Homo sapiens: one gene and its partner. The protein of the gene in region 1 purifies or fractionates together with the protein of each later gene. This does not show direct contact. Each region holds a gene or a part of one and is shown on either strand. Other genes may lie near its edges.

Region 1 (3,904 bases):
CTCCCTTCCTCCTGACCATCAAGGCCCAATGACTCTGTCTTCTAGCTGAGGCCAGCTCTGACAAATTCTTGAGGTTCTAGACTCTGTACCTGCTCTGGGGACCAGGAATGGGTCCTTCTTCACTGCTGCTGCTGCTGCTGCTGCTGCTGCTGGAGGCCTCGTCTCCACTGGGGAGCCTGGCTTGGGGGCAAGGTTGACCAGAACTTCTCTCCCCGACCAGGCTCCCTGCTTGGGAGGCCTGAGAGTTTAGCACGATGTACTTGTACTTTTTCCAGTTGCAGGCCTTGGGGTCAGGGCTGGCTGGACTGGGGGGGCCTTGACTGCAGCTTCGAGATTCAGTAGGTGGGTCTGGGTGTCCTTCGGAGCGCCTGGGACTACCTGGTGGAGGGGCCGTTGGGGGTGTTGGGGGTTCTGCTTCCAGGGGGCGCAGGGAGATGCCCAGAGGTTCATAGCTGGGGAAAGTGTGATGAACGTTAGTGCCATTTCCTAAACTCTGCCTTTGCCCTTAACACCTCACCCACAGAGAACGCCGAGCCAGGGTCCCTCACCTGGCCTGGATGAAGCGGTGGCATGCCTGGACCACGTGCTCCATCTGCAAATAGGTGGCGGCCGCTAGGACTGCTGGTGCAGTGGCTGGAGAGAGGCGCAGGCGCGAAGTGTACATGAAGTCCAATAGAGGGGCGAAGCCTCTCGCTTCGGGACCCCCGGGCAGAGAGAGCACGTCCACCCCGACTCCCGCACGGCCCCGGAAAATTGAATAGAAGAAGCCACTAGAGAGAGAGCAGATAAGTCCTTTGGGGGCTGGGGAACCAAGGGAGACATGCGCAGCTTCAGGAAGCCCCGCCCCCTGAAAAAGTCCCGCCTCCTCACTATCACCCCGCCCCCAATTCTGGGACGCTCCGCCTCCTGCTTCTGAAAGACTTGGCTTCGGATTCCCTCTCAACGGCCCTGTGGTCCCACCCCTTTCCCATTTGGCCCCGCCCCAGGCCCCACCCCTCGAACCTGCAGGCGATGAGAACTGCCTTGTGTGCTCTGAGGGGTTGCCCGCCAACCAGCAGCGTGACGTCAGTGAGGATCCCGCGCAGGCGCAGCTCGTTGAGGTTGCCCAGCACGTCGGAGGAGTGGCGAGTGAACTCGCGGACGTAGCCCAGCGCTCCCTCCGGGGCGGCGGGGGAACCCATAGCGACACAGGCCTGTAGAGGCCGTGGAAAGTGCTCTGGATCCAGGCAGTCCTAAGACGCCTTCCCTCCTCTGTTTGCCTTTTCCTTCCGAGGTGCAACTAGAGCCAGGACTTCCAGCCCCTAGCCCCGGCACACGCAGCCTCCCTCCTAATTCTTCTTGTTCATTCTGCCCTCTACGACACCCTCGCTCCCTTGCCTCTTCCAGATCCCACAGCGCTTGGAGCCAGTTGAAGGTTCCACACCGCGGCGTCGTTGGCGAGCGTGGGGAATCCCGCGCCCATCGCCCTGGGTTCGACCCCCAGTGCCCCTCCAGCACCGCCACTCCCCTCTGCGCGCCTGTGTCTCAGGTGTCCAACCCTGCCTCGAGATCTCACGGCCTGCCGTCCACACACCTCCAAATCCCAGCCGAGGCTCCCTTCCCCGAACTACGGAATTCTGCGACTCCTATCTAGTCCCCAATCCCTAGTTTAGCCCAATTTCTGGGACTCAGGCTCGCTGATGGCAAGCTCCACACAAGCTCCTACCCTCTTGGGGGACCCAGGAGTCTGGCTCCCTCAGTCTCTTGTTCTTACCCCCGTCCTGCAGGGGCCGCGGCTTCTCTTCTTAAGGGGGGCGGGGTCTCTCTCCCCTCTTGGCCTCGGCTCCTTTATCTGGCCGGGATGTCGGGGGCGGGGGTGGAGGTGGGGTGAACGCCTGGGTCTGTATCCTTCCTTCCTCCCTCGCTCTCCAGATGGCGAGTCCAGGGCGGGGTCTCCGTCTCGAGGGCGGGACCTCAGAAACAAGGGGTGGTCGTAACGTAGGGGGTCTTGGGTCACTGCAAGTGGACACGAGGACGGGGATATTGGAATTGGGGAGGAGGTTAGGGATATCGAGGTTGGCAATACGGGAGTCTGAGTCGTCGGAAGGCCTGGGCCAGTGAAAATTGGTGTGTTGGCTTTTGGGAGGGTTTGCCAGGAGCCAACCTTTGCTGCAGGACAAAGTGCATACGGCAACCCCCTCTCCCTCTCTTGTACTGTGTTAAGGGAGAAAAGGGGGAGCCCAACGAGACAGCAGGTTTGGGCAGACGACAGTGGGCTCCCGTAGGGTCTCAGACGGGGAGGGTGTGGTGTGAATGACAGGCTACTCTACCCGGGCCTACAAAAAGGGGGGCTCTGGCCGGGCGGGGTACGGAGAGGGCGGATATGATTTCTAGTTGGTTTCCTTCCATTGTCCTGCGACCGGACGGCTCCGCCAGCTGCTTCCCCTCGAGGAGGTGGGGAAAGCCCCGAGGTGGGGGTGGAGGGGCGAGAGACGCTCGGGAGACCTAGGCGTCCGGCCTCTCTCGCTCCCGACTCTCTTCTGGGTCCTTGTAGGGATCCAGAGAGATGGACTCCCGCCCAAAGCCCGCTTGCTTTCCCCCAATCCCAGCTCACGAGGGCCTCGGGCACCCGCCCGTCGGCTACGCTTGGAGGCTGGCGGGACGCCGGGGTCCAGCGCGGCAAGTAGGCAAGGCTCGGCAATGTGCGGCTCCTTCCACGAGGGGGCGGCCGAGCACTGGCCTCGCCTCGCCCCTCGTCTCCACCCGGCCTGGGGTGCGCTCAGACCCGGGCGCAGGATCCATTTGGTCTGGGCGGCTGAAACCTTTAGCCTCCTCCCCTTTGCGCGGGTTTATTTTGCACCTCTGTCTCCTAGGAGGGGACTAGGGCTGGGCGGAGGGAGCTAGAGTTAGGAGACCGAGGGGACTTTCCCCTCAGGCTGGGGTTCCTACCCGAGGTGAGAAATCGCGGGCTTTAGGAGCCAGGGGAATGGGTGGGACAAGAAGCGGGACCTGAGCCTGGGAACTCCGGGTTTTCTTTTCGAATTAAGCTAGACACTGCTACCCAGATGTCTTTGGAGGTGACTTTTAATTGAACATTAAAATTGGGTGGGGTAAACGAGAAGGGAAAACAAGGAGGAGGGAGAGAGGGCAGGAGGGGGCTTAACCACCCTAATTTGAAGTCCCTGATCTGAGAGATGGGCATGGATCACACCCTCATATTTTGTTTCGGGAGACATTGCGGGCAGGCAAGGCAAAGCTCATTTGGAGAAGGGGTGCTAGAGCTGAATCCAGCTGCAAGGCAGAAGCTCCCCGGATTTGGGCTGGGGAGAGTGTACAGTTGGCCAGGAATGGCCGACCATGGTCCACGGGGCTGGATATCAGGCCCGGGGCCCTCCCCTTCAGACCGGAGTGTGTCTTTATTTGAATGCATGAAAGAACAGCTGAGAAACCGGGAACTGGGAAATTCAGGACGATGAGGTGGCTTTGACATGTGAGGGTTATTTAGGTCTCTGCCCAGCTTGGAGATGAGAATTAGACTAGGGGCTCTCCCTTTGGCATCAGGATGGAGTATTATTTGATCAGTTGTGGGGTGTCTGTTTATTATGGGGTGTTGATTTGATTGTGAGCACCGGTGGCTGCATTCAGCCTTTGAGGCCTATATGGTAAGTTTCAGGTATGGGGCTGACTTGGAAGTTACATTAGTTCTGGGGGTTCTGACACCCACAATTTGGAGATTGTGCTCACCTGTGTCATCTTGGACTATCAGCAGAACCAAAGTACTCATGCTGATTTGGGGGTGCAGTCTATTTTGGGGTGCCATCTAAGTTTCAAGGCTCAGATTAGATTTGGGGAATAAGTTCAATTTGGAGTTTTAAAAATTAGTTTGAGGTGGAACATTATAGGAAGCTGGGAGCAAGTTCGAAGC
Region 2 (3,904 bases), on another chromosome or scaffold:
GTGGACGTTCTGGAGTCTTGGTGGACGTCAGCACTTGTGCTTATCGGGCCCATACCCAGGAGTGGAATTTCTGGGGTCCTGGGTGTGCATTTGTCAGCTGGTCACTATTTTGCCACCAATGACATAGCATTGAACATGCACTGCCCAGGGCCACTGAGGCCCCAACATGAGAAGGTGAATAGGGAAAGCGCCCAGCTGGCCAGCTGCCCACACATCTCGGGGGCAGCTGCCGGGTCAGCAGTTTCTTCCTGGAGCTTCAGTTTCCTCAGCAATGATGGACTGAAGTTTTAAGGTCCAAACACACACTTTACTCCAAGCCCTTAAAGGGAAGTTCATCCTTCTCTGCCTTCCAGGCTCCCCAGTGAAAGTGGTCAGACCTGTTGCTTTCAGTCCGTCAGGGTCAAGGCCACCAGCCCTGCCTGGAACTTTAAGAGCTGCCGGGGTCAGTGCTGGGACTTCATTTTCTATCAAAGCCGGTCTGTGACTCAATGGCATCCCTGGGACAGTCAGCGTTTCGCCTTCTAATTGGCATGGGTTTATTCTTTTTTTAGGAACCTCAGTAATGGCTTGTTTTAATGGAGGTCAAGTCACATTTTTAGGAATTAATATTGTTTACATCTTACTCCAGAAAACTAGCCCCGAGTGAGCATGGTTGTCTCCAGGACTGTGGTGTGGGTCCATGTGTTCTCACCCTGGGGTTGAGAGGGAATGCTTCCTGCCAGAGCGCTCACTGCCTGCGCTCCACTGCACCGCAATTACAGTGGCCCTTTCCCACGAGCCGGGCACTGTGCCAGGCACCCCGGGTATATTCCCACTTCATCCTCAGTCATCTTGCAGGGTGTTCTCACCAGTCACGGGGTGCCCTGACTGCAACCGTGTGGCCAGCTAGTACCTGCCCATGTGGAGGCACGACCCCAACACGCTGGCTCCGTGCCGTGGTGTGCGGCCTCTTGCTGCGGCCCTGTCGCTAGTTCCAGATGGGGAATGTGTGGCTCAGAGAGGTGAAGTGGGCCGTTCCTGCCAGCTGACCTGGGCGTTCTGCCTGATCCCTGCTGGGTTTCATAACCAGCAAGTGTCCTGTGACATGTTGCTGGATGTAGCCTGGCAGAAACGCCCCTTCCTCTGAGATGGACGTCACGCCGCAGTGAGCTGCCCCACGAGGATTCTGCTGAACGCTCCAGCAGGCTGACTTTAAGCCAGCTGTGTCCTTCTTGCGGCATCTCTTCTGAGAGCCAGGTTTCTTCACTCTTTCTCCATTGCTACCCTTTTTCTTTGAAATGGAGTTCTTGGTGGCAGGGCAAGGGAAAGGGAGCTCTGTATTCCTTGGCTCATTCTCTAATAACTGTTCCTCTGACTCTTGAGTCAAGCCCTGCGCCCGGGATGCACCACACCCCTGCCTGTGGAAGGCAGTGCGAGGCCAGAATCAGACCTGCAACCGCTGCTGCAGGAGTCAGCGCACTGTGGGGACCCAGGGAGGAGCTGGCGCCCACACCAGCTGACTCCCACACCAGCGGTCAGAGAACATTGTCTTTTAAGGTTTCCGAAGTGCTGCAATAAAGAAATTAAATCATCTTTTCACTGTAGGACTTTTTAGAGGCTTTAATGCGGGAATTTGCTTTACAAACCTTCCAGAGAGGAAACAGCCTCCAGCATCTTCCTAATGGGACCAAGGCACCTCTAGGTGACAGCTCAGGGCTGTGATTGAGAAGACGAGGAGCCTCATCTCTTGGGGAGAAAGTGGCAGGGGTGGGGGGCTGGGGAATGGCCCCCTCAAGACGGTTAGCCACATCAGTGACATTCCGCTGTCAGGCGTGGTAAAATAATGGGGCAGGGTATGGCAGGCATGACGGAATCTTGCCTGTGATGAAGCGGGCTCCCTGCCCAGTGCAGGGCCATCTGGAGACCAGAGGGGCCTCCCTGCGCTCCCAAGGGCCAGCCCAGACGCCAGCTGACAGGCAGCAGGAAGGGAAAGAGGAGCCCATTAGGTCTTGCTCCTCACAAGAACCATGTTCTGAAATATGTTTTTTACTTCTTGCTCCTGTTAAAACTTAACCACACCTCTATTAAGACCTCATGTCTGCAACCCAATTCCCTGGAGGACCAGGGTTTGAATTCAAGATCTCCACGTGAGAGCTGAGCACACTTGGGCGATTTCTTAACCTCTTAGTGTTATTTCTGGACAAGGCTGATGTCAGCCTTGTGAGCATTAAGTAAGGAAGGCCGTGTGTAAAAAGTCCTCAGCGTGTGCCCAGCCTGGGGTCGTGTCCAGTAAAAGGCCCCGCCTCTGATGGGCTGCTCTGCTCTCTGCACTTGTCTTCCAGGACCTGGTGACGATGGTGGAGCAGCTGGCCAGATTCCTGGGGGTGTCCTGTGACAAGGCCCAGCTGGAAGCCCTGACGGAGCACTGCCACCAGCTGGTGGACCAGTGCTGCAACGCTGAGGCCCTGCCCGTGGGCCGGGGTACGTGCCCCACCCTGCCTCCCGCCCAGGCACTCCCCACCCCAGCCAGGCTGCTTTCTCTGCCTGCTTAGGGAGCCGAGTCCGGTCCCTGTTGCCCTCCCTGCTCTCCTTTTACAGCAGTCTGTAGCTGGCCCATGGCCTGTGCTCTGTTAGCTGGTGCCCATGGATGGCACAGTGCTCATGGAGTGACGGAGTACCCTGCCCGCTGGTGTTTGCATTGCCTCCAAGCAAACAGTGTTTTGACTTGAAAAAGTGCATTTCAGGCTTTGTGGGCGGGATGTTTCTCAGCAGGGAGTCTACTCAGATGGCCTGAAATCAAACGCCCCACAGAGCAGATCCAGGGACTGGGTTTGGTGCTATGACATGTCAAAGCGCAAAGCATGCTGATGGGTTTCTCAGTCTCTAACTGACTTGTGGGAGAGTTAAATGAAGTGGGCGGGAAGTTAGGAGACACCGTTTTTCTTCCTTCACTGAGTGGACGCTGACTGAGCATCTTCTGGGTGCAGGCAGCACAGGTGAGGCCTAGCCCCACTTCGGGGTGGTGAACTTAAGCAGACAGTACCAAGCTAAGCCGCTGCACAGAGGGAGGCCAGTTCCTGCTCTTGGCGGCAAGTGACAGTGGGCATGAGGCAGCTGGAGATGGGGACAGTGTTCCTGACAGGAATCCTCCCCAGATCCACCTGGGTTGCTCCCCCTGTCCTTAAGGGTGTGTGGCATTTGGCTTTGATGATGGAGAGCCCAGGCTCTAAAACCCCTGAATCCCAGGGTGCTGGCCTTGGCCATAGGAGGCCCCCTGTTGGTAAGTATGAACCTGATGGACACTTGGTGTGTTGGGCACTTCCTGGGTTGAGAATGTTTGCAGGGAGGGCCCAGAAACGTGGATGGCTCTGTTCAGCAGCAGCCCCACAAGATGGAGTGGGAGATGCCTGGGGCGGATGAGAGACGCGCTGGGCTCCAGCTCAGCTCTGCTGCCCTCTGGGAACGCAACATAGGTCAGGCCTTCAGCTTCTGCGGCTTTTTGTTCTTCTCTGAAAAGGGGCTGATCACGGCTAAGGGCGGTTTGAAGGTCAAGTGCAAAGTGCCGTCTCTTATAAAGGCAGAGCAGTGGACTCCTCAGGAGGAAGTGAACTGAACCACAGTCCCTCTCGACTTCTTTCCTGGCTGCATTTTCATAAATATTTGTTATTTAACATTTATTTGCTCTTTTTTAGTTTTGCTTTTGCTGTGTTTTGTTATCCTTGGATGTGACCTTCTCCAAAATACCCCTTTTGGTTCACGTGTGTGTGTGTGTGTGTGTGTGTGTGGTGAAGCAGCGTCGAGAACATACTGTGTGCCCATATGCTCCTTCCCTTGGGTTTGCTTTATCATGGTTTACCTTGGTTTTGCTTTATTTCAGTTCTTTGATTTGTTTTCTTTTAGCACATTGCGTCTTTGCTCGGAAGAT

Evidence for each region.
Region 2: the proteins of BCL6B (region 1) and SULT4A1 purify together in Homo sapiens (affinity purification with mass spectrometry; 3 studies listed by BioGRID and IntAct, with this or other methods). This does not show direct contact.

What each region holds. Positions count from the first base shown.
Region 1 is NC_000017.11:7,020,949-7,024,852, reverse strand, and holds the start of BCL6B (B-cell CLL/lymphoma 6 member B protein), read right to left. Parts: upstream 1,804-3,904; 5' UTR 1,754-1,803; intron 1,194-1,753; 5' UTR 1,182-1,193; coding exon 1,003-1,181; intron 771-1,002; coding exon 549-770; intron 453-548; coding exon 90-452; intron 1-89. UniProt on the Homo sapiens protein: Acts as a sequence-specific transcriptional repressor in association with BCL6. May function in a narrow stage or be related to some events in the early B-cell development.
Region 2 is NC_000022.11:43,827,616-43,831,519, reverse strand, and holds part of SULT4A1 (sulfotransferase 4A1), read left to right. Parts: intron 1-2,321; coding exon 2,322-2,460; intron 2,461-3,879; coding exon of another isoform or gene 3,880-3,904. UniProt on the Homo sapiens protein: Atypical sulfotransferase family member with very low affinity for 3'-phospho-5'-adenylyl sulfate (PAPS) and very low catalytic activity towards L-triiodothyronine, thyroxine, estrone, p-nitrophenol, 2-naphthylamine, and 2-beta-naphthol.